4 separate regions of the Homo sapiens genome follow, and all the other regions are linked to region 1. The links come from fine-mapping of genetic effects on gene expression. A gene starts in region 1. Each other region holds a variant in brackets. All regions are shown on one strand. Distances are between the middles of the regions.

Region 1 (7,475 bases):
GCTCCTACCAGCTCTATGGAGCATGCAGTCACGGCCTCACCTCGCCATTGCAGCTAGCATCATGGCAGTGGCTGCTCCAGATGGACCACTGCTGCCATCACCAAGATAGGATGAAAAGAGAAGACAAATGTAAGAGCACTGGTTGGTGTCTGTGGCTCCTGCACCAGGGTCCCAGCTGTCCAAACTGAAAACCCAGGAAGCTGGCTCTGAGCTTACTGGACTTTGCAGAGGGATGGCCATATATTCCTAGCACTTTGTCAGCTACAACTGCCATATTTGGAGGTCAGGCAAAGTGAGCCAGTCTTCCACTCCAAAATCCAGTTTTTAATTAATAAGTATTACCCAACACCTAAGGAGTGTTTAATTATGATTACCTCTGAGAAAGGGGATGGTAGGCAACTTTTAAAACTTTATATATGTCTGTATTGTTCAAAGTTGTTATAGAAACATGTATTACTTGTAGATAAAAAACCAAAAAAAATTTTTTAATAAAAATACTTCATTTTAGTATAGTGCTTTATAGCAGTGCTTCTGTAACTTTATTGTGCAAATAAACCGCCCAGAAATCTTGTTAAAATGCAGATTCTGATTCAGTAGGTTGGCAATGGGGCCTAAGATTCTGCATTTTCAACAAGCTCCCTGGTGATATGGAGTCCATTAACCATACTTTGGGTTTACGGCAGCGGTCCTCAATCTTTTTGGCACCAGTTTCACAGAAGCCAATTTTTTCACAGACGGGATGAAACTGTTCCACCTCAGATCATCGGGCATTAGATTCTCATAAGGAGCGTGCAACCTACATTCCTCATGAGGGTAGTTCATAATAAGGTTTGTGCACCCCTCTGAGAATCTAATGCCACTGCTGATCTGACAGGATGTGAAGCTCAGGCGGTAATGCCAGTAATGGGGAGTGGCTGTAAATACAGATGAAGTTTCGCTGGCTTGCCTCCTCTCACCTCCTGCTGTGCCACTCAGTTCCTAACAGGCCACAGACCAGTACTGGTCAGTAGCCCAGGGGTTGGGGACCCCTGGTTTACAGAATATAAAGCACATTCATATATATTATCTTATTTGTTCTCTGTCACAACTCTGGCAGATAGGGGTTCACTAATTCACTTATTCGACCATTAGGTACTACTATTAATATATACCAGGCACTTGGCATACAGATATGGTCAAATGGAGTGGGAAACCTACCACCCAACCAAACAAAAAAAAACGCATGTTAACCAACAAATAAATAATTATAAATAGTTATCAGAACTGAGCAGGAAGTAAAGAGGGTGCTGAAAAAGAACAACAGGAACCACTCTGAGGAGGCCTCTAAGAGGAGGTGACTTCAGCAGGGATGGGAAAGATGAGCCACTCAGTTTAGGGGCAAGCTCTGGGCAGACACCAGGAAGCTCCTGCAGCTAGAGTGCAGGGAGGGAGGGAAGATCCCTAGATCTGGCCCAGAAGGCTGCGGCAAGGGGCCGATTTCAATTTAATTCTGGGGTAAGCACTGAGGATTTAGGTAGAGAAGTGTCTGTTCTAGTATTTGCCTTAGGATCACGATGGCTGTAGTGTGGGAAATGAAACCTCTCCAGGATCGCCTGGGAACTGGTATAGGGAGTCCCGGGCCATGCGGGGGCGCCAAGGAGTCAGGCCTGGTGTCCCTGCAGCCGCGCGGATCCACTTGCAGATGGGTCCCTCTACGAATAACGAGCCTACTAGGGCACGTGCTTTTACTGCTGCACTGAGGACGTGAAATGCGCGCAGGCACAACGAGACTTTCTTCTTTTTCGCTCTTTCAGAGGGCCCGGGCTCCCATCTACGCTTTGCTGGTTACGTTGGCATGTTGGGCATTTCCCCCTCTCTGCCTCAGTCTCCCGACCTGTCAAAGAGGACGGTGGGCCAGCCATGGGTGACACGCCCGTGCGCCTCTCCAATAGTGCACCTCGGGCAAGCCGGGCGGCGGGCACAGCCTGGACGGTGCCGGCCTCGAGAGGCACAAAGGGCTGGCTTTCCACCGGGGAAACTGAGGCAGTGGAGCGAGGAGCGGCGTCCTCGAAAGTCCTCGCAAACTCCCAGCGCCTGTGTTGGGCCCATGCAGGCTACCCAGGCCGCCCGTCTCCGAGCGGAGGACCCCGCCCAGCGCTGCCAGGGGCGGGGCCGGGCTGAGGACCCGAGGCTGGAAGGGAGGTCGGAGCACCCAATTCGGTCCAGGACTCGCAGGGGGCGGCAGTGGCGGCGGCGAAGTCCCGTGCAGTCCCAGTGCTAGAGCGTGGGACGGACTTGTGGGGCACCCCTCGGTGTTCTCCAGCCAGGCCTGGGGGCAGGAGGCCCAGCCACGCTGCCGGGTGCAGGCCTGCCCCTGGGCGCCCGCCCGCGCGCCGTCCCCGCCCCTCGGCCGCCCCCTCCGCCCCGGCGCGGGCTCGGGACGTGCAGAGCCGGCGAGCGAGCAGCAGGGACTGCGCCTGGCGCACTCACTTCCGCGTCCCGCCGCCCTCCGGCCCGCGCGCGCCGATCCGCCGCCGCCATCGGACAATGGGCCGCCAGCCCCAGCTGCCGTGAACTTCCTGCCGCTGCTCGGCCGCCCGTGCGTCCCGGACGGCGTTCCTGCCAGGCGCCGGCCGGGATCGCAGCTCCGGGGAAGCAGCGGAGGACCCAGCGCCTGGAACGTACCTGCGCCTCAGCCGCCGCGCGTTTGCTCCGGCCCGACTCGCGGCCTCGGCGCCCTCCCGGCCGATTCAGCTTCACCCGGCCCAGTCGGCTGCTGCCTTGCTGTGAGTTTCCGTGTTTGGTTGCCTAAGGAGGATGTGATTTTACTTTTTTGCTGTTTTCTTTTTCCTTTTATAATTTGAAGAGGAGAAAAGAACTCCGCTGAGCAGGCCCGGGACGGCGAAGTGCCACCAGCTACCCCAACAAGGACGTCTCCAGGGGAAAGGGAGTTGGAAGCAAACTTGGTCCAGCTGGCGTTGAGGTCTCAACTTCGGCTGGACTCTTAAATCCTGGGGTCATGCCCTTCACGCTAGGCAGGTGGAAGTCTTTACTTGTACTGGGCCGGACTTGAGCCCCGACCCTTCGCCAGCATCTCCCCGCTGCCCTCAACACACACACACACACACACACACACACACACACACACACACACACACACACACACACACACACACGGCACCTGGGCTAGGCCCGGACACCTGTCTGCAGCATGGATAAGTATGACGACCTGGGCCTGGAGGCCAGTAAATTCATCGAGGACCTGAACATGTATGAGGCCTCTAAGGATGGGCTCTTCCGAGTGGACAAGGGTGCAGGCAACAACCCCGAGTTTGAGGAAACTCGCAGGGTGTTCGCCACCAAGATGGCCAAAATCCACCTCCAGCAGCAGCAGCAGCAGCTCCTGCAGGAGGAGACTCTGCCCAGGGGGAGTAGAGGCCCTGTCAATGGAGGGGGCCGCCTGGGCCCACAGGCCCGTTGGGAAGTTGTGGGCAGCAAGCTGACTGTGGATGGTGCTGCCAAGCCTCCTCTTGCTGCCTCGACAGGGGCACCTGGGGCAGTCACCACCCTCGCTGCTGGGCAGCCCCCGTACCCACCGCAGGAGCAGAGATCCAGGCCATACCTGCATGGCACGAGGCATGGCAGCCAGGACTGTGGTTCCAGGGAGAGCCTGGCGACTTCTGAGATGTCTGCTTTCCACCAGCCAGGCCCCTGTGAGGATCCTTCCTGCCTCACTCATGGAGACTATTATGACAACCTCTCCTTGGCAAGCCCAAAGTGGGGTGACAAACCAGGAGTGTCCCCCAGCATCGGCCTGAGTGTAGGGAGTGGGTGGCCTAGCTCCCCGGGGAGTGACCCACCACTGCCCAAACCCTGCGGGGACCATCCCCTAAATCACCGACAGCTCTCCCTGAGCTCCAGCAGGTCTTCTGAGGGTAGCCTCGGTGGTCAGAATAGTGGCATTGGTGGCCGCAGCAGCGAGAAGCCAACAGGCCTTTGGTCCACTGCCTCCTCCCAGCGGGTGAGCCCTGGCCTGCCTTCCCCAAACTTGGAGAACGGAGCACCAGCTGTGGGGCCTGTTCAGCCCAGGACCCCTTCTGTGTCAGCACCCTTGGCCCTGAGCTGCCCCAGGCAAGGAGGTCTTCCAAGATCAAACTCGGGGCTGGGGGGTGAGGTTTCAGGTGTGATGTCCAAACCCAATGTGGACCCCCAACCCTGGTTCCAGGATGGGCCCAAATCTTACCTTTCCAGTTCTGCCCCGTCATCCTCGCCAGCTGGTCTGGACGGTTCACAGCAGGGTGCGGTCCCTGGGCTGGGGCCGAAGCCTGGCTGCACAGACCTTGGCACTGGTCCCAAGCTCAGCCCCACCAGTCTTGTCCATCCAGTGATGTCCACCCTGCCTGAGTTATCTTGTAAAGAGGGTCCCCTGGGCTGGTCTTCTGATGGTAGCCTGGGATCTGTGCTCCTGGACAGCCCCAGCTCCCCTAGGGTAAGGCTGCCCTGCCAGCCCCTCGTCCCAGGTCCTGAGCTGAGACCCTCTGCTGCTGAGTTGAAATTAGAAGCCCTCACCCAACGTCTGGAGCGAGAGATGGATGCTCACCCGAAGGCTGATTACTTTGGTGAGTGAGAGGCTGGTGGAGTTGCCTATGGTGGGGCGATGGGGTTCTTGAGATTGGGGAACATGCCCCCTACCAGGGATGCTGTGGGCTGTAGTTACCTCTCTTTGAGTGGCCTGTTTTTTTATTTTTTTGTTTTGGGCTTCCTCTTTCAGCTGCTTTTTCTGATTCAGAAACTTGAAAGCATCCTGGGGCAGAAAGCGGACCTTGCAGCTGGGGTTACCCATGTGTGAAGGGTGCAGCAGGGTGGGATTGCTCATGACTGCTCTCAGAAAAGAGAAATGCTGTGACTTTGGATTTCAAGGGTTTTGGGTGTGACTTTAGAGCCTCTTGCAGTGACAGGCTCATATAGGACTTCAGTGGGACCAGCTTTCTCAGGGGCAGCTACCCCTGAGCGTTCAGTCTGTAGTTGGTTGGGCAGATCTGGTTGATCTGGCTGTTTGAGGGACCAGTGATTGAGGCAGGGGCTCTTGACTGCCGTGTGTGTGTGTCTGTGTGTGTGTCTGTGTGTAGATGGGTACTTATGTGCAGTTGAGGCAGGTCAAACACTACCATGAAAGACTTGTAGAGCAGTGGATCTTTTTTTTTTTTTTTTGAGATGGAGTCTCGTTCTGTAGCCCAGGCTAGAGTGCAGTGGCACAATCTCGGCTCACTGCAACCTCCGCCTCCCGGGTTCAAGCAATTCTCCTGCCTCAGCCTCTTGAGTAGCTGGGACTACAGGCACGTGCCACCACACCTGGCTAATTTTTTTTTTTTAAGTAGAGACAGGGTTTCACTGCGCTAGCCAGGATGTTCTCAATCTCCTGACCTCGTGATCCGCCCGCCTTGGCCTCCCAAAGTGCTGGGATTACAGGCGTGAGCCACCGCGCCTGGCCAGAGCAGTGGTTCTTAAGTGTAGTCCCTGGATCAGCAGCATCCCTTTGCCTGGAAACTGATTAGAAATGGAAATTCTTGGGCCCCACCCAAGACCTACTGAATCAGAAACTGTGGGATGGGACCCAGCCAGCCGTGATCCTGCTGTGTGGTGAGATTTGAGCCCTGCCGCACCATGTGCCTCCTAACCCAGCCTACACCCAGGTAACAGCCAACAGCCAGGTTGCACCACAGCCGTGGCACAAACTATGATGGAAAATGTGTCTTCCTGGTTTTACTCAAACTTGCATGTTTTGTTTTATTCTCTTTTTTAAAACCACAAACTCTTGGAGACTGCTAGCTTCAACTTTTTTTCTTTGCACGAGGTTTAGTGGTAGTTGTATCTTTCTGTTGAGTAATGATTAGTTGTCTCATAAGAGAGCTAACTAGAAAGACAGCCTATTCGCAGAGAATCGGAGGGGTTTTTCTTTTTCAGTTTTTAACTTTGGATAATTGACCCCCGTGTTCCCCATAGCCTGAGTCCTGCTGGGGTAGCAGCTCTGCCTAGTGGAGGGCAGGGACAGGGAAGGCCCTGGGAGAGGAAGACAGCTGGCTTACTGCTGTCAGTCTACGCTTATTCTCCGTGAACGAGCAAGTGTCCCAAGGTCCTTTGAGGGACCAGGGTCTGAGGCACTGGGCTGCTGGATGTGTGCAGCTTATGGTAGCATTGTGTTTTGCTTCTCATGAGAACCTTGTGGGAGCCAGTTCTCACCCCATACTCAGCAGGCTGAGGTCAGGGTAGCTGTTTATGGCTTACTTTTTTTAAATTTATTTTTATTTATTTATTTGTTTATTTATTTATTTATTTTGAGACAAGGTCTTGCCTTGTTGCCCAGGCTGGAGTGCAGTGCACCCTAGACCTCCCGGACTCAAGGCATCTTCCTACCTCAGCCTCCTGAGTAGCTAGGACTACTTAAGAGGAAGCAGGGGAGGAAGGGGACGTGGAGGTGGGGGGTCCTCTCTAGGTTGCCCAGGCTGTTCTTCTGGGCTCAAGTGATCTTCCTGCCTCAGCCTCCCAAAGTGCTGGGATTACAGGTGTGAGCCACTGTGCCCGGCCTACTGGTTTATTTTTTAAAGCACATGGCACCATCTTACTGTGAACTATCTTTTCTCCTCAGCACATTCCCACATTTGGGAGTAATAGTTAGCTGGAAATACTGTGGGTCTTTTAATTTAAACTTTTGTTTAGTTGTAAATTTCAAGCTCATTGGACAACACAAACAGCAGTTTTATCTTGAGATGCAAGTTTATGCTGTGCATCAGAGCAACGGTATTAGCTGACGCTACTCATCCATTCAGCATATATTAAAATTTATTGAGCACCTATCTTGAGGCCATGCTCTATTCCAGGTCTTGGGGATACATAGTGAACAGGACAGACAGGAACCTCTGCCTCCCTGGAGCAGACAATGTAGTAGAAGGAGGCAGGGAGTGAATGAAGTAAATAAGCAAGTACTAGGGAGAGAATCAAGGTAGAGAAAGGGAATGGAGCCCTGGGGCTGGGGGTGGCAGAGAGATTTCCAGTTTTAAATTGGGTGATCAGGGAATGTCCCACCTAGAAGATGCATTTGAGCAAAGGCAGGCAGGAGACTGGACCATGTGTTTTCCCAGGGAAATGGTGTTCTTGGCAGAGCAGACAGCAAGCACAGAGTCCCTGTAGGCCTGGTCTGTGCTGGGCACTGTACTGAACACTTGATGCTGACTATTGAATTGACTGGTCACAGCATCCTTGGAAGCTGGTTCTGCCATTATGCCCATTTTACTGATGAGAAAACGGAAGCTCAGGGAGATTAAATTACTTACTGGCGGTGTCACAGGTCATATTGGGTACTGCTGGGACTTGAACCTGACAGTTCAGTTCAGCCTCAGGGCCCATGTGTCTAACCAGCATTGCCAAACAGTCTCCCAAGCAGAGATTTGGAAGCCTATTTTATTTATTTATTTTTATGGTTTTTTTTTAATTGAGAT
Region 2 (7,475 bases), 46 kb after region 1:
GCAAATTGATTTCAACATTCCTGATGGCCTATGGTTCTTTGAATTCTCCCCATTAAACCCATTAATTGGTTCCTTTATTAATTGATGAGTTAAATAAAGTCTTTGGCACATGTTTGTGTTTTATCCATATGGGAGTTGTGTTTAGGCCCCCCTTTATTTATTTATTTAGTTAGTTAAATTTTAATTTTAGTTTTAGATTCAAGACGTGCAGGTTTGTTACAAAGGTATATTGTGTGAATCTGAAGTTTGAGCTTCTATTGGTCCTGTCACCCACACAGTGAACATAGTACCCAGTAGAAAGTTTTTCAGCTATTTGGTTTTCTGTTTCTTGTGTTTCTATGTTGCTGCAAAGGACATGATGTCACTTTTTTATGGCTGTGTAGTATTCCATGGTGTATATGTACCACATTTTCTTTATTCAGTTACTGCTGATGGGCACCTAGGTTGATTCCATGTCTTTGCTATTGTGAATAGTGTGGTGATAAACATACGAGTGCAGGTATCTTTGGTAGAAGATGTACTTTTCTTTGCATATATATCCAGTAATGGGATTACTGGGTCAAATGGTAGCTCTATTTTTAGTTCTTTGAGAAATCTCCTAACTGTTTTCCACAGTGGCTGAACTAATTTACACTCCCACCAACTGTGTATAAGCATTGCCTTTTCTCTATAGCCTTGCCAACATCTACTTTTTGACTTTTTAATAATGGCCATTTTGTGGTTTTGATTTGCATTTCTTTGATGATAATGATGTGGAGGTTTGTTTTGTTTTGAGATGGGGTCTCACTGTGTCATCCAGGCTGGAGTGCCATGATGTAATTGTAGCTCACTGCAGCCTTGAACTCAAGCAACCCTTCTGCCTTAGCTTCTGAGTAGCTGGGACTGCGGGCATGTGCCACCATGCCCAGCTAATGGTTTAAAATTTTTGTAGAGACAGAGGTCTCGCTGTGTTGCCTAGGCTGGTCTTGAGCTCCTGACTTCTGGTGACCCTCCCACCTCAGCCTCCCACAGGGCTGGGATTACTGGCATAAGCCACCACACCTGACCCTTGAGCATTTTTTTCATGTTTGTTGGCTGCTTGTATCAGATCTTTGTTTACAATTTATCTTTGACCTTTGACTCCTACAACAGTTTCTCAATACTTGCTCTATTTTTCAGGAAAAAGAAAATAAATATTAAGGAGAGGCTGTTTTCCACCTCAAGCAGTTACCATTTGAATTAGGGAAGCTGTTGGTGAGGGAAAACCAATTGATGAGCGTCTTAGTCTGTTTGGACTGTTATAACAAAGTACCATACACTGGTTGGCTTATAAACAATAGAAATGTATTTCTCACAGTTCTAGATGCTGGAAAGTCCAAGATCAAGGTGCTGGCAGATGAGGTGTCTGTTGAGGGCCCACTTCCCGGGCACTCATATGGTAGAAGGGGAGCTCTCTGGGATCTCCTTTATAAGGGCACTAATCCCATTCCTGAGCGTTCCACCTCATGAGAATCACCTCCCAAAGGCCCTACCCCCTAATCCCGTCACCTTGGAGGTTAGGATTTTTTTTCTTTTTTTGAGATGGAGTTTTGCTCTTATTGCCCAGGCTGGAGTGCAGTGGCGCAGTCTCGGCTTACCGCAACCTCCGCCTCCTGGGTTCAAGCGATTCTCCTGCCTCAGCCTCCCAAGTAGCTGGGATTACAGCCATGCGCCACCAAACCTGGCTAATTTTTGTATTTTTAGTAGAGACAGGGTTTCTTCATGTTGGTCAGGCTGGTCTCGAAGTCCTGACCTCAGGTGATCTACCCGCCTCAGCTTCCCAAAATGCTGGGATTACAGGCGTGAGCCACCATGCCCGGCCAGAGGTTAGGATTTTAACATAGGAATTTTAGGGGGACATAGACATTCAGCCCATTGCAGATGAGTCTGTGGGTTCCACCCAAGGCTGCTAGAGTGGCTGTCTATTTCTTAATGGATTGAGTTTCTCTTTCTTCAAATTGTGACAAGCACAGACACTTAAGGAAGACAGACCTGGTTTGGGTTTTTGATTGGTCTAGCATTGAAGGCCTTTGTGGTCTTGTCCCTGTCTTATCACTTCCTGTTTCCTATTCCAGTCAAACTGAATTTCTCTTTTTCACTTCCATGCCTCTGATCACATTGTTATCTAGAATAGCCTCTCCCCATTCACTTAATACATTTCTCTGTCCAGTCTTATGACTCAGCTCAAATGCCTCCTCTTCCAGGAAGCCTTCCCTGTTTCCTTAGCAGGAAGAGACTTCTCCTGAATTTGGTGCACTCTGCTTTCTTGTTGTTTTTTGTTGTTGTTGTTGTTTTGTTTTGTTTTTAAGACGGATCTCACTCTGTTGCCCAGGCTGGAGTGCAGTGGCATGATCTCAGCCCACTGCAACCTCTGCCTCCCGGGTTCAAGCGATTCTCCTGCCTCTCAGCCTCCTAAGTAGCTGGAACTACAGGCATGTACCACCAGGCCCGGCTAATTTTTGTATTTTTCGTAGAGACAGGGTTTCACCATGTTGGCCAGGCTGGTCTTGAACTCCTGACCTCAGGTGATCTGCCTGCCTTGGCCTTCCAAAGTGCTGAAATTACAAGCGTGAGCCACCACTCCCAACCCTTGTTGGTGTTATTACATAGATGGTGAACCTCATTCTCTGTGGATCTATTGCCAGCAAACCAGGCCCTAGAACAGAGTTGCTGAAGGAATGAGGATTCGGATTTTGTCAAAAAGTGAGTGCAGGGGCATTGCTGTTTGCCCTGGGGCTGCACACCCTCCTGCTCTGTGAATGTCCCACTTCCTGTCCAGTTCCAAAGAGCAGTTGGAATGTTGGAGACTGGGCTTGTGTCTCAGCGGCTTCTCTTAGACACTGGAGGTGACTTGTCTTTTTTCAGTTACCAGATTGCTGCCCTTTACCTCAGTTTTCAGCAGAAGGAGGCACCCGGGAGCTCTGTGTCTCAGCTCTGCAGGTCCTGAGTGTGTCTCTGTGAGCCTCAACACCATGGAGACGGCACAGCTGGGGGTCTGGGTGCATCTAGGGCATCCCCTCCTTCTTAGAAGAGAAAATGGGGGCAGACAGGGGAAGAATTTCTCAAGGTCAAAAACCTGGCTATGGAGCTGGCATGGAATCCAGACCTCTTGAATCTATGCTCACCTGTACTTCCTTGTTTTTCTGGTTCTCCCTCCTCTGATTTATTTCCACCTAGTCAAGCAAAAATAAGTGTGTTTTCTCTGTTCTTTATCTTATCTTGGTTATTGATAGAGTCTGGTGAGTGTGTGTATTTCTGAACATACTTGTATATGTATCTTTTCTATTTTCCCATTTCAATTATGAAAATCTAGTTTAAAACACTATATATAGTATGTAAAGCCAGATTTTATATATAATTATATATATTTTATTTTATTTATATTTTTTATATATATATAGCATATGGCATATGGAGGTATCTGTTGGTATATACACATACTTCCTGAGGTCCATTGATACTGCATTAAACCATGGTATTTGGATACTGTTAAGCTCACACACATTTACAGGGCAAGTCCAGGGCCTGACTAGTTT[G/C]GTAAAGATACAACAAGCCACTGTTACTTTAGGCAGTTTATTACTTACATAGGCAGGCAACACAAAGAATGTGTCAAAGGTACCATCTTCCTGGGTCCTTGTCCCATACACTGAAGAGGATGACACTGAAGCAAAAGGGGCTGATGACTGCCACATAAGTGGGATTTTGAGAAGCAATTTTAGACTGCAGCTAAGTGGTCTCAGAGCCCACAGCTCTGTTCTGAGAGGCAGGCAGAAATTCCCATACCTCATTAGAGATGAGACACTGTCTGGTGACAGGCTCCTGGGGGAATAGGGAGGTGAATGAGAGACAGCCGTGCATCTTTTTATGTTCTGGAAGCCTACAAGGTGTTCCACCAAGATTCAGGCAAACCTTTGCATACATGGCTATGTGCAGTTCTCCCAGGCACCATGGCAGGTTCCCTTACACGGATATGAACATTTCCCCATCTGCTGATGAGAAGCAGCAATGGGGAAAGCTGTGAGAAAATTGTATCTTTTTTTTTTTTTTCTTTTTGAGACTGGGTCTTGCTCTGTCGTACAAGCTGGAGTGCAATGGTGGGATCACAGCTCACTGCAGCCTTGAACTCCTGGGCTCAGGCGATCCTCCTGCCTCAGCCTCCTGAGTAGCTGGGATTACAGACATGCACCACCATGTTCAGCTATTTTTTATTATTTTTTGTAGAGACAGGGTCTTGCTATGTTGCCCAGGCTGGTCTCAAACTCCTGGGCTCAAGCAGTCTGTCTGCCTTGGCGTCCCAAAGTGCTAGGATTATAGGCATGAGCCACCACATCTGGCTGCTGCAAAGACAATTTTAAAGACAGAAACCTGTTATGTTAGCATTGTAGCTCAGCTACTGTCACTTTTATGTTTTCCCTGCCAGGTTTTCCCCAAGTTTATACACATTTTTTAGAGTTGCGATCATAGTATATAAACAATGTTGTATCCTTTTCAATTTAACATCATGTCATAGTTCATAATAATAATTTTAAGTTACATGGTGATGGATGAGTTGTGCCACAGTTAATGGCTGGTTTGCAGGTTGTTACACACAGCCCCAGCCAGCATCTTCGTGCAGCATCTTTCTTTCCTTCTGTGGGATTGTTTCCTTGGTGCTCGTTCCAGCAGTAAGCATCAGGTTGTGGTGTGGGCGTTTGTGTGGTTTGTTCAAGTTCCCTTCTTCTTTGCTGTGCTCCTTGGGCTGGGAATGTTTGGTTGCCGTGGAGATGAGTGCTGTGGGTCTCCCTCCTCTCCCCTCAGGCTCTGCCCACCCCAGGCGGCCATGCCCCCCCACTGGCACTGGACACTCTCAGGAAGCTGTTGGCACACCCTGGAGTGGGAGGGAGGTCTGTGGAGAGGACAGGAGTGGCCTTTGTTGACAGCTGTGTCTACTTACATGTCAAGTGGCCTGTCTGAGGGAGGCTGGCTCCCACCTGTGCCTCAGAAGCAGCAGCATGAGAGGAGGAAAAACACGCTGACTTGTGGGGTTGAGTGGACTTCTCGGCACCTTCAAGAATAGTCTGGGAGGCCAGGCGTGGTGGCTCAATCTGTAATCCCAGCACTTTGGGAGGTTGAGGCGGGTAGATCACTTGAGGTCACGAGTTTGAGACCAGCCTGGGCAATGTGGCAAAACCCCATCTCTACTAAAAATACAAAAATTAACCGCATGTGGTGGCACATGCCTATAATACTAGCTATTTGGGGGGCTGAGGCAGGAGAATCACTTGAACCCAGGAGGCGGAGTTTTCAGTGAGCCAAGATTGCGCCACTGTACTCCATCCTGGGCGACAGGGTGAGACTCTGTCTCAAAAAAAAAAAAAAGAATGGTCTGTGAGGGAGAAGTAGGCAAGGTCCTGTGTGCTCACTCCAGGCAGATTGAGGTTTAAAAACTAAGACGTTCATTTCACAGACTAAACAAATTCCATCCTACTTGCCATGTTAGTGTCATGATTCCTATTAGTTTTTCGGTGATATGAGACGGAAAATGATGGACTAGGTAAATATACTCTCCCCGCCAGAAGCCCATGGAGCAGGGGGGTGCCCACCTTGGGGATGGAAGCTGGGAAGCAGCCAGTCCCACAGTTGACAGAAATTACGCCTAGTGCAGGTCCGAGCTCAGTGGAAGGCTGCAGAGGGCCAGACGGGGTCCACTTGGGATGGTGCTGGAATGTGTAAGTCAAGGCCAGAATGAATTGCAGTGGTGTAACCTACTGTTTGTATTGCTCGGTGTAAGATGCACTGTGACCTGCCAGCCATGCCTTAGTGGGGAGAAAAAAGCAAAACTAAGATTATATACCATTGCTCATTTCACCTTCCAAAAACCGAATGTCCATGGCTGTTGAAGACTGCGAATGGGATTTATAGTAAAATCTCACTTGTTGAGACCCAGTTGGAAGAAAGCCTTTCTTAGTAATAAAAAGCCTGCATCTAGAACACTCACAAAATGCCATTTTGTTACTTGAGATAAATAAAACAATTAGGACCAAGCCTAGTGTTGTGGAACAGAGGTTCTTAGCGAATGAATAAGTCCTTGGTGATTGACTCACCAGTTAGTTCGCCTCTGAAGGACTGGAGGGTTCTTGCCAGCTATTTTGTTTTTCTTACAAAGTCTAAATACTGCATCTGAAATCCTTTCCCTTTTTTGTTGACTTTGTAAATGACCTCGTCAACCCAGCCCCTGAAAATGCTTACACATTTTGAATGAGTTAAGCCTGAACTAGGGAGGTCTTCCTTTAATTCATGCAGGTCTGCTTCTGTAAAACAGTCACTGCGATATTTATAGATAATTTTGGGTAAGCTTTCTAGCTTACCGTGGGCCTGACACCGCATAACCCTCCTCCACCCATGGCGGCGCACTAAATCCTGTAACAATTCAGGGAGTTCAACGTTCATTATTATTATTACTCTCAACTTAAGATGTACAGATTGAGGCTTGGAGAGTTTAGTTTGTGGTTGGTTTCGTCACTGTTAAGTGGTGTGGTCAGCACTTGAACCCAAGACCTGTGGATCCACAGCTCTTGCTGTTAGCCACTGTATTAAATTACCTTTGCTTAGAGAGAGTATTTGCCAAAGACAGGAGCCGGGCTGTAGCCATGGGGCCTTGCCTTGACTTTTCAGGTTCAGCCGCTGCCTTGGGGTTGTGTGACAACAGAGACTGGATTTTTGGCCACCCTCGAGTTGTGAGTGCAGGAGAGTGGCCTGGGGCTGGGAATAGGGGAGGTAGAATTCAATCATGGGATGCACCCATAGTAGAGAAATGGACTAAGGGCTTTAATCCCTGAGTTTCTGAGCTGTCGAATTGTCCGAATATTTCTCATCATATTCAGCAGTTCTGTATGAGCTGAATGAGTCAGCAGGACCTAAGGAAAAAGCTGAAGATCAAGAATGTGAGAAAGGAAGAGTGGGCAGATGCTAAAGGAAATCAGTGGGCACAGGAAAGATCAGGAAGCAACCAAAATAGGCTGGAGCTGGCCAGAGGGCTGCAGGGATCGGAAGAGAGTGGAGGGGCCACTTACTTTGGTTATCAAAGGGTCTCTTGTGTCCGTCTCCTGCAAGCCTAGTTCTGCTAGTGCACTGGAGTTGGGGCCAAACCTGGTTTCCCAGGTCAGACTCTGCTGGTTCAGTCAGAGGCCAGGAAGTCCCTGACAGGGAAGACCATCAGATTCCTTTGTTCCTATCGTCTGAACACAGTCTGAGAGGTTTCGCAGTATATTGTAGAGGCTAACTTTGGTGTAACCTATACCTTATGTGGCCATGTCTGCATCCTAAGCTCCTGATATTGCACATGTCTGGTTTTTGTTGGAAGTCTGTACCTTTCCTCCGTGGTAGTCCCAGACCAAGGGTGATACTTGGCGGTGCCCAGGGTGTCACCTGTCTTCTCAAGTGGAAGAGGAGAATGAAGAGCACTCCAGTACGCCAGG
Region 3 (7,475 bases), 34 kb before region 1:
TCATCTGGGGCCAGCCCCCGAGCAGACAGGGAATGGCTGGGGCTCTGGGTGAGGGCAGAGCTGTGGAATGAGAGAGAAGGGGCAGATGGAGCAGTGTTGCCAGTGGACAGGCCCTGGCAGCATGCTGGAGAGGGAAAGACCAGGACTGGAACATCAGCACATTACTAGGGTAGAGGGTGCTGCCTTGTGGGGACAGCCAGGAGGGCAGGCTCATTCAGGGGTCCAGAGCCTACAGCTGAGGGGGCCTGGCTGGGAAGGGGTCACTGTGTGCCCTTGAGCCACCACGCGTGAACCTGCTTTGTATCCTCCCGAGGAAATTGAGTTAAACTCCTAAGATACTTAATACCTTGAGTTAATCTCCTAAGACAGGATCTCAAGGTAGGGCAGACTGAGAATGTGTCCATTCCAAGGAGGCATGTCCCTGGGGCCAGCCTTTGGGTTATGATGGCTGAAGTGAGTCAGCAGCGTGTGTTTCGCCCTGCATGGCCCATGGAGAGGCCTCTGGGAGGCAAGTGCCCATTTGCTTCCCTGATGGCTACCTCTCTGCCCATGTGCAGAAGGTGGTGAGAAGGCAGGAGAAGAAAGGCCACAGCTCTATATCTCTTTGTTGTAACCATCACAAGGACATGGGACTCGGGCTGCAGAGGCCCTCAGAGGTCTTCTAGCCCAGGGATGCTCAGCTGCCTCCCCAGTCCCTCTTTCAGGGAACCTGCTCACCTCATGAGAGACAAACCACCATTTTTGGAGGAGTTTGAATACAGTTTCTCAGCATCTTGTTGCAATCGCTATGCACAGGGAGGTTTAAGACTCTACAGCTGGCTTCTCAATTGTTGCCAGGGAGCCTGCAGAACCAACCTGCCCTCCCCACAGCTGGATAACCTGTCTCACCAGTGCACAGTTCTCCAGTTTAGCATCTCTGAAGTCAAGATGTGTTCTTAAAGGGAACAGTTGTGATGTCATTGCTGCAAATCTTGCACATGACCACTGGTAACTTGGAAGAAAATCCCAGAGACAAGAGTGGAGCAGCTTGTTAGGAAATGCCACATCCTCAGTGCTCGTGACGATGGGAAGGATCAGAGCATAGAAGATGTGGACATCACAACTCTTGTAAAACAGTGATTCAGAAGAGTTCTGAATGAACAAATTTCAGCCATGCCTTAACTAACTTATTTTACTTGTATTTTCCTTTTTATATATGTATCATAGTGATATATGGTAAAATTTATCTAAATAATGCCCGGGCACAGTGGCTCATGCCTGTAATCCCAGCACTTTGGGAGGCAGAGATGGGCAGATCACTTTGAGGTCAGGAGTTTGAGACCAGCCTGGCCAACAGGGCGAAACCCCGTCTCTATTAAAAATACAAACATTAGCCAGGCATGGTGGCACGTACCTATAATCCCAGCTACTTGGGAGGAGGCTCTTCGAAGCATGAGAATCTCTGGAACCTGGGAGGCAGAGGTTGCAGTGAGTGGAGATTGCGCCACTGCACTCCAACCTGGGTGACAGAGTGAGACTTTGTCTAAAAATAATAATAATCTAAATTTAAAAATAATAATCTAAATAAGTCTGAAGTATGTAGTTCAATAAGTATAGAATTAAAAATCTAAGTAATAAGAGAACACCGTGCCATAGTTTAATGTCAGCATTTTTTTGTTGTGTGTGTGTATGTGTGGTACATGCACCTTAAAATCAGTGAGATCTTTGATTTAATGAAATGTGGATAATTGTCCATTGAAGTCTACTTAATACCTTGAGTTAGACTCCTAAGATAGCATTGTACTGAAATCGTCTTGGTGTCTGTTTTCCCTGCTAGGCTGGCTACTTCCTTGAGGGCTGAGCAGCACCTTGATGATGGAGAGTCTCTAGAATCTAACACAATGTACAGTAGGGGAGCACAGTAATGTCCTGTCAACCACTGGGTTTGGGTAGTGGTGTATTCCTATATACCAGCCATAAAGGTACCTGCACTTTTTTTTTTCTGGGAGGGTGGGCAGAGTTTAGAATCCCTAAACCACTTCGTCAGCAAGGCCCCTGGTGTGGTTGTATAGATTGTGCACTGCACAGAGGCACCCAGACAAGAGACCCAGTGGGGCTGAAGTTGGTGGTTGCCCTGCTGCCCAAGCCACGTGCCGCCCAGGCTATGTGCCCGTGGGACTGACTGCCCAGTACAGGCAGCTTTTCTCATTTTTACAAACATGCGATGGAGGTGATCAGTGGATTTGTTCCTCAGGCCCTAAGTGGAATTTTCCCTGCAGTGCCTCTGACCTTAGGAGTCCTAAGCAGCTGGTCAGGATGGGCTAAAAGCCTGACCTTCAGATTGGCCCAGATGAATGTTGTTGGGGCGGGGGAAGTGGTTACAGACTTTTGGGTGAAGCTGGCGGTGCAGGAAAAACTTTAGTTCTGATTCTGACCCTACGCCGGCTCTGTGACCTCAAGTTAGTGCAACAGAAATGGGATTTTGATTTCTTTAATTCCAAAGTTGACCCGGGGGTGCCAGCTGGTGGGTAGGGTGGGAGTTCTGAGAGGAAACAGTGCTGAAAATAGTTTGGGGACATTCTGTAAGTTGAAAACTGCAGAGCAGCCCTAAATGATGCCTGGAGATTTCTCCTCATGGGGAACAAAAGGGTAACAATTGGAGGGTTTCCTGCTTGGCCCTTCAGTTAAGACTTTGGCTCTGGTCTCTCTGGCTGCCACAGAATCACTGATTGTTGAGGATCAGCCGTGGGGCATCGTCTGAACACAGTAGCCCATTGCAAAATAGTTTGCGTGTGTTTTCAAGTCTTGGTGGCCAAGAGCTGGGCTGACCCCAAAAGTGAAGAAGCCGGACGGGGAAGCAAAGACAGCTGCGAGGAGGGAGTGAGGGAGCTGCCAGAGGAAGTACTGTGGGTCTATTTTAAGACTGGAAAATTGGAAAGCTGAGGAAGTACAACGTGTTTCAGTAACGGGGCCCAGCAATCCCTGGCCTTCGCGGGGATATTTCCCCTGAGGTGAGAGTACAGAAGGACTGAACATTTCTATTCACCAAAATGCTGAGGCCAGAGCTCATGGGAACCAGGAAGGGGAGAGGAGTGGGGAGGACAACCAAGTGTTTAAACTAGATAGAAGCCACTGG[G/A]TGTGTTGGTGGTTCTGGACCTTGGCTATGGATCAGAATGGCCCTCTCTGGGCCAGAACTGAAAACCACTGGGCAGTGGAATAATGGAGAGATTGGCGGATGATGGCCTGTGGGCCAAAGCTGGCCTAGCATCTGTTTTTGTAAATGAAGTTGTACTGGAACACTGCCATGCTTAATTGTTTACATATCATCTGTGGCTGTTTTTGAACAGAGTTGAGTAGTTGCGACAGAGACTTTATGTCCTACAAAGTCTAAAATATTTATTATCTACCCCTGTACAGGGAAAATCTGTCAATGACACAAGAGTCACTGGGCTTGGGGGTCTAAAAACTTGGGTTGAGTTCTAGTGTACCTATATCCCTATCTGGTGACCTAGGGCAAAGCTTTAGCCAAGCCTCAGTTTCTTTCTCTGTAAATCAAGTAGCAATGCCCATCTTACCCAGGTGTGAATATTGAACAGATAATATATTTATTGTACTCCTCGGAGGTATTTTTAGTTATTATTTTAGATATTACAACATACAACCTTATAATAATCTTCCTTGAGTTAATATTATACCACTTTACAAACAAGGTAAAAATTGAACCATTCTTGTCCGGGCGCGATGGCTCACACCTGTAATCCCAGCACTTTGGGAGGCCGAGGTGGGCAGATCACGAGATCAGGAAATCGAGATCATCCTGGCTGACACAGTGAAACCCCGTCTCTACTAAAAATACAAAAATTAGCCAGGCGTGGTGGCAGGTGCCTGTAGTCCCAGCTACTCGGGAGGCTGAGGCAGGAGAATGGCATGAACCCGGGAGGCGGAACTTGCAGTGAGACGAGATCACACCACTGCACTCTAGCCTGGGCGACAGAGTGAGACTCCATCTCAAAAAAAAAAAAAAAAAAAAAAATTGACCCATTCTTGCAACAGTTTCCCTTCCCTGTCCTTTGAAGGTATGGGCATATACTTTTTCTACATATTTTATAAATCCCACATAAATGCATATTATTTTTGCTTCAGACAGTCAAGTCTTTAAAGAAATTTTAAAAAGAAAAAATACTTTTATATTTACCTCAATAGTTACCATTTCTGGAGTTCTTTCTTCTTCCTGTAGTTCTGGGCTTCAATCTGAGATAAATTCCCTTTAGCTTAAAGCATTTTCTTTAGTGTTTCTTATAGTGGTTCTGCTGGCAGTAAGTTCTCATAGCGTTGGCTTGAGAAACCTTTCTTTCCCTATACCATACTGGATATAGCCTTCTAGCATGGTACTTTTTTTTTTCAACATTTTAGATGTCATTCCATTGACTCCTGGATTTCATTGTTTCAGATGAAAATTAACCATCATTCTTTTTGTTGTTGTATTAAAGATAATGTTTTCTTTCCTTTGGCTACTTATAAGATTTTCTCTTTTAACTCTAAAGATTTTATCTATAGTTTGACTAGGATATGCCTAGTTGTAGTTTTTTTCTTTGTATTTATCCCTCTTGGGGTTTTTAAGATTAGGAATCTGTGGGTTGATATCTTTCATCAATTTTGGAAAATTGTCAGCCATTACATCTTCAAATATTTCTTCCCCAATTTCACCTCTCTTCTTTTTCTGGTGTATCACTTAAATTTACATTTGATCATTTGATATTGTCTCACAGTCCTCTGACAGCCTGTTCTGTACTTTTTTTTAATTTTAAAAAGAAATCATACAGTTGTGAGAAATTATTAATAGATATCCTTTGGACCCTTTACCTAGTTTCCCCCAGTGATAACATCTTGCAGAATTACAGTATATCACAACCAGGATACTGTCCTTGATAAAATCCATCAATCTTGTTCAGATGTTCCTAGTTCTACTTGTATTGATTGTATGTGTTTGTGTGTGTGTGCACGTGCACACATGTATTTAGTCTTTGCAGTTCAATCACAGATGTATGTTCATGTATGCACCATCACAGTTCAGATTCAGAGCAATTTCATCGCTACAATGTTTCCTCAAGTTACCCTTTTATAACCACCCCCATCTTCCTACTACACCCCTACCTCATCACAAACCTCTGGCAACCACTAATCTGTTCTTCATCTCTATAATTTGGATATTCAAGAATGTTAACATAAATGGTATTATATAGCATGTGGCCTCTCAGATTGCCTTTTTATACTCAGCAGAATTCCCTTGAGATTCATCCAAGTTGTTGCATTTATAAATAGTTCTTTTTTTTATCATTGAGTTGAATTCTATGGTATGAATATATCATTGTTTGTTTAACTATTCACCCATCAAAGGACATCTTGGTTATTTCAAGTTTTGGCTATTATCAATACAGCTGCTATGAACATTCATGTACAGGTTTTTGTGTAAATATAACTTCTCATTTCTCTGGGTAAATGCTGTGGTTTGAATGTCTCCTCTAAAACTCTTATTGAAACTTAATCCCCAATGGCAGTATTGAGAAGTGGGGCCTTTAAGAGGTGATTGGAAGGCCGGGCGCTGTGGCTCACGCCTGTAATCCCAACACTTTGGGAGGCTGAGGCGGGTGGATCACCTGAGGTCAGGAGTTCAAGAACAGCCTGGCCAAAATGGCGAAACCCCATCTCTACTAAAAATACAAAAATTAGCCAGGTGTGTTGGCATGTGCCTGTAATCTCAGCTACTTGGGAGGCTGAGGCAGGAGAATCGCATGAACCCAGGAAGCAGAGGTTGCAGTGAGCTTAGATCGCACCACTGCACTCAAGCCTGGGTGACAGAGCAAGACTCTGTCTCAAAAAAAAAAAAAAAAAAAAAAGGTGATTGGATTACACCATTAATGGATTAATGGATTAATAAATTAGTGGATTGATGAGTTATCATGGGAGGGGAATTGGTGACCTTATAAAAAGAAGAAAAGAGACTTAAGATGGCAAGTTAGCATGCTCAGCCCCTCACCACATGATGCCCTGCACCCCCTCAGGACACCAGAGTTCCCACCAGCAAGAAGGCTGTCACCAGATGCAGCCTCTTGACCTTGGACTTCTCAGGCTACATAACTGTAAAAAATAAATTCCCTTTCTTAATAAATTACCCAGTTTCAGGTATTCTGTTACAAGCAATAGAAAATGGACTAAAACACTGCCCAAGAATGCAATTCCTAGGTCACAGGATAATTGTATATTTACTGGCATGTGTTTTGAATTCTCTAATTCTTTCTTCTTCTGTGTGGACTCTATTATTAAATTTATAAATGAATTCTTCATTTATACTGTATATTTTAATTCAAACATTTCCTTTTTTTAAAGTTTTATTTCTCTGTCAAATACTTCATATTTTCCTATGTTTGCCTATCTTTTTACATAAATTCTTTAACATATTTAAATAGTTATCTTAAATCCTTGTTAGCTAATCCCAGCATCTGGGTTATCTGTGGGTCTGCTTTTGTTGATAATTTCTTTTTGTCTGATGAAGGATTACATTGTCTTTCACATGTCTTATCATTTTTTCAGTGTATGCCAGAGATAGATATAAAAGCACAGGAGAGAATGAGGTGCATAATATTCCCCCCAGAAAGAACTATCATCTTTCAGGAAGCTAGAGAGAGGGGCCCATCTGTTCAAGAGCTGCATTCTGTGAACACTGAGATGCAGCCTTGGTAATTTCAGTTCACTTAGTTTCAACTCTTGAGTGTGGTTTCAGGCCACCCCCTCCAGCAGAGATGGTCTCTGAACAGGTGCTAAGGAGATTTGGCAACACTGAATGGCATCCCCAAGAAGTCTGCTGGGTTTCTGCAGGACACTCTTCTTTACCAAGCCAACCACCATCATCTTATGAGGCTTCCTGGAGGGAACCTCCAGATTATGTGAGGGGTCTTTCCTTCTTCATGCTTTGGCCACATTGCTTTGGGATGGTTTGGATTCTCTCCTGCTCCCTGCCTCCCCCCACACCATGTATGCTTCTTGATAACAGGGACTGTGCCTCATCCATCTGTGTTTCCCATTGATGCATAGTGGTTATGAGTTGGGTCAAAAGCAAACACAATAAATGTTTGTTGAATGAACAAATTCCTGGAGAAGGAATATGTTAACAGAGGGGTGGCGGGTCACCAAAGCACTTAGAACAGGGTTTTGCACTGGGCCTGTAGTTGATCCCAGAGTAGAGAAGGCCCTACCAGTATGTCCAGCCCATCTGATGGTTGTGGCTCTGTTAAGCAGTTATGAAAAGGAGACAGCAAAGTGATTGAAGGCATGGGAACCAACATTAACCTTGCTCTGCAAGTTTTGAGGATGGTTGTTACGCGGGGGAGAAGCATATTTGGAGTAATCTATGCATATCTAGGTGGAACTATGGAACTCCCTTAAGGAAGAAAAGAAGCTGTAGGCATTGGCTTCCCATCATAGAGGCCTGGATAAAG
Region 4 (7,475 bases), 55 kb after region 1:
TTTAGTAGCCATGTACAGCTTGTGGCTACTGTATTGGACTGCATGTAAAGCCTCTTGTTCCTAAATCTTTTTTTTTTTTTTTTGAGACAGTCTCACTCTGCCATTCAGGCTGGAGTGCAGTGCTGCATTATGGCTCACTGCAACCTCTGCCTCATGGGCTAAAGTGATCCTCCCACCTCAGTCCCTTTAGTCCCCTGGCTAATTTTTTTGAAATTAATTTTTGTAGAGTTGGAGTCCCACTATGTTGCCCAGATTGGTCTCAAACTCCTGGGTTCAAGTGATCCTCCCGCCTTGGCCTCCCAAAGTGCTGGAATTACAAGTGCAAGCCACAATGCCCGGCCTCTAAATCTTAGCCAGAGTTCACTTATTAGTAGGAAATTATTCATGAAGTTTCTTGTTTTTGATATTTTATACATCACCAAGTCAATGTAGTCACATTGTCAAAAAATGTATATGGGAGAAGAAAATCACCTATAATTCAATACCAAAAAGAACCCCCAAAAATGTATGCTGTGCCTACATAGACGTTTTTGCCTGGTTGTCATCACAGTGTATGTTTGCTTTTATGCCCTGCTTTTTCCACTTAGAAATATATCATATGCCTTTTCCCTCATTGCTTCATAGTCTTCATAACCATCTGCTGCGTAAGATCCTGTTGATTTGATGACTCAAAGCCAACATAACCTTCTTGCCAGTTAAAGTTTAAAGGGGAAGTGAACTCTTACCATGGGAGCTCCCAGACTCTTCCCAGGAGTACTGAGGCTGGCTGAGTGTGGATCCTGTGGCCAGGTTTTCAAGGACCAGATGCATAGCAGGGCACGGGTCAGCCTGGGGGTCCGGCAAATCCAATGCCTGGCCAGAGGATGCAGGCCCTTCCCTGTGTTCAGGGGCAGGGTGACAGCTGCCTCTCCACATCCGCAGCAGCCCTGCAATGGTCACCATTGGTGGCATTTGGATGCCAGCAGGGTCCCATATGCCCTGTTTTGGGCAGAGCGTCTCTGTCTCTTGCATGGATCACTGCTGTCACCTCCAGTCTGGTCTCTGGGCACAGCAGCGAGGAGGCCACTCCACAGCTCAGAGACCTTCAGCTACTTTTTGCCTTAACATTGTAGTCCAGTTCTTTTGCCTGGTGTTTAAGACATTTCCTTAAATTAGTTCTAACTTCCTTCCTGTCTTCTTTCTTTCTAACTATCCCCCTCCTCCGCTGCCCCACAGCCTCCCGAAGTGCTGAAGTCCCTGGCCACACTGCACATCACCTGTCCTTTTCTACCCCTGTACCTTGTCACCCTTAGCCTCCATCACCACCCAGGTGAATATCACTCTCCCTTCAGTGTCTTCCATTGCCATCTCCATTGCTACTCTCCTGATCTTGGGTCCCATGTGCACCCTTCATTTGCCTGTCCTATGGTGTTTTCAATTATGATTAGATTGAAACTGTTTGCAGGAATCTCTATCTCCCCCTAGGTGATCAGTTTTGGGAAAAATAGGGACAGGGTTTAACTGATCATGATTTTACTCCTTATAACCCTTCAGCACCTTTAGTATAATTCTGAACACAGAATAAATGTTGGAATAAATAAAGGTGACACTTCCCCATTACCTGGTACTCATCACTTCACCTCCTTACTCACCTTCCCTCATCCCTAAGCAACCACTGATCTTCCTATCCCTATAGATTTGCCTATTCTGGATATTTCATATGAATGAAATCATACAATATATGATCTTCTGTGTCTGGCTTTTTTCACTTAGCGTGCATTCCAGGTTCATCCACGTTGTAGTATGAATCAGTATCTCATTTCTTTTTATGGCTGAATAGTATTCCCTTGTATAGATGTACCATATTTTGTTTATCCATTCAGCAGTTGATAGACACTTGTTTTTATTTTTGGCTATTATAAATAATGTTGCTATGAACATTCCTAGGCAGGTGTTTATGTGAATGTATCATTTCTGTTCTCTTGGGTAAATATTAGGAGTGAAATTGCTGGGTCATATGGTAACTGTGTTTAACCTTTTGAGGACCTGTTTTTTAAAGAAGCTCTACCATGTTACATTCCCACCAGCCATGTATGAGAGTTCCAGTATTTCCACATCCTTGCCAACGCTTAGGCTTATCTAGTTTTTTTATTCTAACTATCCTATTTGGTGTGAAGTTGGATCTCATTGTGGGTTTTGATTTGCATTTTCCTGATGATTAATGATGTTGAGCATCTTTTCATACATTTATTGGCCATTGGTATGTCTTATTTGGAAAAATGTCTTCTCAATTCCCTGCTCATTTTTACTTGGATTGTCTTTTTATTATTGAGTCTTAATCGTTCTTTGTATAGGATTTGGGAATATTTTCTTTCATTCTGTGGACTGTCATTTCATTTCTTGATGGTATTGTTTACAGCACAAAGGCTTTAAATTTTGATGCAGTAGAATTTATCTACTTTTTTTCTTTTTTTGCCAGTGTTTTGGTGCTTTTTGTAGGAAAACATTGGCTGACCCAAGGTCACAAAGATTCATGTCCATGTTTTCTTCTAAATGTTTTAAAGAGATTTAACTAATAAGAAAAAAGTCTCACTTGTCCTCGCATTTGCCATTTCTGCTCCTTCTCATCCCTTTGTTTAGATTCAGGTTTTCATCTGGTACCATTTTTCCTTCTGCTTGAAGGACTTCTCTTAACATTTTTTCTTTTTCGTATGCTGATTTGGTGATGAATTCTTTAAACTTTTGTATTCTGAATTTATCTTTCTTTCATTTTTTTATTTTAAAATATATTTTTTTGGCTGGGCGCGGTGGCTCACGCCTGTAATCCCAGCACTTTGGGAGGCCGAGGCGGGCCAATCATGAGGTCAGAAGATCGAGACCATCCTGACTAACATGGTGAAACCCCGTCTCTACTAAAAATACAAAAAATTAGCCGGGCATGGTGGCGGGTGCCTGTAGTCCCAGCTACTGGCGAGGCTGAGGCAGCAGAATGGCGTGAACGCAGGAGGCAGAGCTTGCAGTGAGCCGAGATTGCACCACTGCACTCCAGCCTGGGCAACAGAGTGAGACTCTGTCTCAAAAAAAAAAAAATTATATATATGTATACATATATATATATAAAATTATATAGATATATTTATATATAATTATATATTTTATATATATAATTATATATATAAAATATATATATTGCTGGATATAGAATTCTAGCTTGATACTTTTTTGAGTTCCTTGAAGTTTTTTT[G/GT]TTTTTTTTTTTTTTACTATTTTCTCCCTTTTTTTTTTTAATGAGAAATCTGATATCTCTATTCTCTGTATGTGACATGTTTTTCCCCCATTCTGGCTGCTTTTAAGATTTCATCATTGATTTTGAGAAATTTGATTATGATATCCTTGGTGTGCTTTTCATGTTTCTTGTGCTTAGGGGTTTGTTGAGCTTCTTGGATCTGTGTGTTTGTAGTCAGTCTTCATCAAATCTATTTCTTCACATTCCTCCCCATCCACTAGGGACTCCAATTACTCCAATCTTAGGCATCTTGAAGTTGTCCCAGAGCTCACTTATGCCCATTTCGTTATTTAAAAAGTTCTTTTCCTCTCATTTCATTTTGGACATTTTCTATTGCTGTACCTTTAAATTCACTAATGTTTTCTCTTGCATGGTGTAATCTGCTATTAATCCCATCCAGTGTATTCTCTTTTCTAAAATTTTTAAAAAGCTTTTTGTTATTTATTTATGTATCTTTTTTTAAATTATACTTTAAGTTCTGGGGTACATGTGCACAATGTGCAGTTTTGTTACATAGGTATACATGTGCCATGTTGGCTTACTGTACCCATAAACTCATCATTTACATTAGGTATTTCTCCTAATGCTATCCCTCCCCCAGCCCCCCACCCCCCCCAACAGGCCCCAGTGTGTGATGTCCCCTCCCTGTGTCCACGTGTTCTGATTGTTCAACTCCCACTTATGAGTGAGAACATGCGGTATTTGGTTTTCTGTCCTTGTGATAGTTTGCTGAGAATGATGGTTTCCAGCTTCATCCATGTCCCCAAAAAGGACATGAACTCATCCTTTTTATGGCTGCATAGTATTCCGTGGTGTATATGTTCCACATTTTCTTTATCCAGCCTATTATTGATGGATATTTGGGTTGGTTCCAAGTCTTTGCTATTTTGAATAGTGCCGCAATAAACATAACGTGTGCGTGTGTCTTTATAGCAGCATGATTTATAATCCTTTGGGTATATGCCCAGTAATGGGATGGCTGGGTCAAATGGTATTTCTAGTTGTACATCCTTGAGGAATTGCCACGCTGTCTTCCACAATGGTTGAACTAATTTACACTCCCACCAACAGTGTAAAAGCGTTCCTGTTTCCCACATCCTCTCCAGCGTCTGTTGTTTCCTGACTTTTTAATAATCGCCATTCTAACTGACATGAGATGGTATCTCATTGTGGTTTTGATTTGCATTTCTCTGATGACCAGTGATGATGAGCATTTTTTCATATGTCTGTTGGCTGCATAAATGTCTTCTTTTGAGAAGTGTCTGTTCATATCCTTTGCACACTTTTTGATGGGGTTGTTGTTTTCTTGTAAATTTGTTTAAGTCCTTTGTAGATTCTGGATATTAGCCCTTTATCAGATGGGTAGATTGTAGAAATTTTCTCCCATTCTGTAGGTTGCCTGTTCACTCTGATGGTAGTTTCTTTTGCTGTGCAGAAGCTCTTTAGTTTAATTAGATCCCATTTGTCTATTTTGGCTTTTGTTGCCATTGCTTTTGGTGTTTTAGTTATGAAGTCCTTGCCTGTGCGTGTGTCCTGAATGGTACTGCCTAGATTTTATTCTAGGGTTTTTATGGTTTTTGGTCTTACATTTAAGTCCTTAATCCATCTTGAGTTAATTTTTGTGTAAGGTGGAAGGAAGGGATCCAGTTTCAGCTTTCTACATATGGCTAGCCAGTTTTCCCAGCACCATTAAGTAGGGAATCCTTTCTCCATTGCTTGTTTTTGTCAAGTTTGTCAAAGATCAGATGGTTATTTTTTTTTTTAAGATGGAGTCTTGCCCCCATTGTGCAGGCTGGAGTGTAGTGGCATGATCTCAGCTCAGTGCAACCTCCACCTCCCGGGTTCAAGCGATTCTCCTTCCTCAGCCTTCCAAGTAGCTGGGATTACAGGCATGCACCACATGCCTGGCTAATTTTTGTATTTTTAGTAGAGACAGGGTTTTGCCACGTTGGCCAGGCTGGTCTCAAACTCCTGACCTCAGGTGATCCACCTGCCTCGGCCTCCCAAAGTGCTAGGATTATAGGCGTGAGCCACCGCACCCGGCCTGTTATTTATTTTGAGACAGAGTCTTGCTCTGCTGCCCAGGCTGGAGTGCAATGGTGTGATCTCGGCTCACTGCAACCTCCGCCTCCCAGGTTCCAGCGATTCTCACGGGTCAGCCTCCTAAGTAGCTGGGATTACAGGCATGAGCCACCATGCCTGGCTAATTTTTGTATTTTTAGTAGAGGTGGAGTTTTACTATGTTGGCCAGGCTGATCTCAAACTCCTGTCCTCAAGTGATACGCCTTCCTTGGCCTCCCTAAGTGCTGGCATTACAGGTGAGAGCCACCATGCCCGGCCAGCCAATGTATTGTTTATCTCAGACATTTTGGTTTTCATCTCTAGCAGCTCAGTTTGAGCCTTTTAAATATTTTCCATGTTGCTACTTAACATTTCCAACATATTGAATATAGAAACAATAGCTTTTAATGTCCTTCTCTGCTAATTCTAATATCTGTGTCTGATCGGGGTTGATTTCCATAGATTGATTATTCTCTTCCCTGTGGGTTGTGCTTTCCTGCCTCTTTGCATGCCTGGGAATATTTGATTGGCTGCCAGACATTGTAAACTTTACCTTTTTGAGTCTTGGATATTTTGTATTCTTTCAATCTTCTGAGCATTGTTCTGGGATGCTGTTAAATTATTTAGGAACAGTGATTCTTTCTAGTCTTGCTTTTATGATTTATTAGATGAATTCAAAGCAGAGCTCAGTCTAGGGCTCTATTATTCCTCATTCTCAGGGCTGGTGGGAATAGGCACTGTTTCCAGCTTTTGTGGGTGCCAGGCACTGTTCTTGCGAATCCTGCAGATGTTTGTCCTCTGACTTTGGTTAGTTTCCTCACAGGCAAGAGCTGATCCATGCTCTGCTGAACACTTAACGGAGACCCTCTGCACATCTCTGGGTTGTCTCTGTGTGCAGTATTCTCATCTCTGATCCAGACGATAATAGCCTGGAATAGGGGAAATGGAAAACTAACTATAAGACAAAGACTTTGGAGTGGCACGTGAGAAGAGAATTGGAGCGTGAGGCAGCAGTGCTCAGAACATGGTCCTTGGCCAGCACCAGCAAAGGCCGAGAAAGAGATGAGAACGTTTAGAGACCTTCCTAAGAGTTTGACAGAGTGGCTTTGTGTCAGTTGAATTGGATAATAACTACAGTTGGGGCTTGGATTTTATGTTTCATTTTTCTATATTATTGTATTTTACAAGATAATAAGTCTGACAGATGGAAATTAAAAACAAAAGCCTCCCATACCTAGCCCTTTGCCACAGATAAACTGAGAAGGAAGGAGTGATGTAGGGGATTTGGATGAGGAGGGAGAGAGGGTGGTGGTTATGATTCTTAGCTCTGGTGGGTGTCATTTGAGGAAACGGAAGGTCAGGTAGGGATGCTGGCAACAGTCACACCAGATGCCTGGTATGAGGTGCACTGGGCTGCGTTCCCTACTGTGATCCCACTTTTATCCTTACCAGGGAACCTGAAGGGTTTGGGTGACAGCCAGGGTCTCATTTCAGGGAAGGGGCAAAGGCAAGGTTGGACCCCAAGCCTGAGTGCTTTTCCACTTTGCCCCTTTCTGCTGTGCTCCTTGGCTTACTGAGGCTTGGCAAGCCTGCAAAATCGAGGCTGGATCTCTCCTTCACTTGAGCCAAACCAAATTGATTTGTTTTTAGCAATATCTTTTAAGAGTTAACCTATTCTGGGGCTGGGTGTTGTGGCCTATGCCTCTAATCCTAGCACTTTGGGAGGCTGAGGTAGCCAGATCACCTGAGGTCAGGAATTCAAGACCAACCTGGCCAACATGGTGAAACCCCATCTCTACTAAAAATACAAAAATTACCTGGGAGTGATGGTGCATGCCTGTAGTCCCAGCTACTCAGGAGGCTGAGCCAGGAGGATGGCTTGAATCCAGAAGGCGGAGGTTGCTGTGAGCCAAGATTGCACCACTGCACTCCAGCCTGAGTGACGGAGCAAGACTGTCTCAAAAAAAAAAAAAAAAAAAGAAAAAGAAAAAAAAAAAAGAACCTATTCTAGAAAAGCTATTTGAAGAAGTAGATTGGTTAGAATTTTGTGCGATGATGCAGATATTCTAAAGCTTCCCTAGTCACAAGTGGCCATCAAGTACTCAAGATATACTTGTTCAAGCCCTGGCGCTAAATTTTTGATGTTATCTTA

What was found. PIP is the estimated chance that this variant, and not a neighbour inherited with it, causes the effect.
Region 2: its variant is the best candidate, but not a certain one, in a credible set for the expression of LIMD1 in whole blood (TOPMed, PIP 0.62).
Region 3: its variant is the best candidate, but not a certain one, in a credible set for the expression of LIMD1 in tibial nerve (GTEx, PIP 0.60).
Region 4: its variant is the best candidate, but not a certain one, in a credible set for the expression of LIMD1 in whole blood (INTERVAL, PIP 0.65).

The regions. Positions count from the first base shown.
Region 1 is chr3:45,591,690-45,599,164 of GRCh38, forward strand. It overlaps LIMD1 (LIM domain containing 1), which reads left to right and starts at 3,062. Exons shown (of 8, transcript NM_014240.3): 1 at 3,062-4,598. The coding sequence starts at 3,191. RefSeq lists silencers at 2,069-2,538, 2,549-2,678 and enhancers at 2,769-2,938, 5,434-5,933.
Region 2 is chr3:45,638,123-45,645,597 of GRCh38, forward strand. All of the region lies in intron 2 of LIMD1 (LIM domain containing 1), which reads left to right. Among named protein-coding and RNA genes, the nearest start is that of LIMD1-AS1, 47 kb to the right of the region's middle. RefSeq lists an enhancer at 935-1,229. The variant G/C (reference allele first, on the strand shown) is at 3,555.
Region 3 is chr3:45,557,618-45,565,092 of GRCh38, forward strand. No RefSeq gene overlaps it. Among named protein-coding and RNA genes, the nearest start is that of LIMD1, 33 kb to the right of the region's middle. RefSeq lists an enhancer at 6,804-7,063. The variant G/A (reference allele first, on the strand shown) is at 3,116.
Region 4 is chr3:45,646,625-45,654,099 of GRCh38, forward strand. All of the region lies in intron 2 of LIMD1 (LIM domain containing 1), which reads left to right. Among named protein-coding and RNA genes, the nearest start is that of LIMD1-AS1, 39 kb to the right of the region's middle. RefSeq lists an enhancer at 469-970. The variant G/GT (reference allele first, on the strand shown) is at 3,224.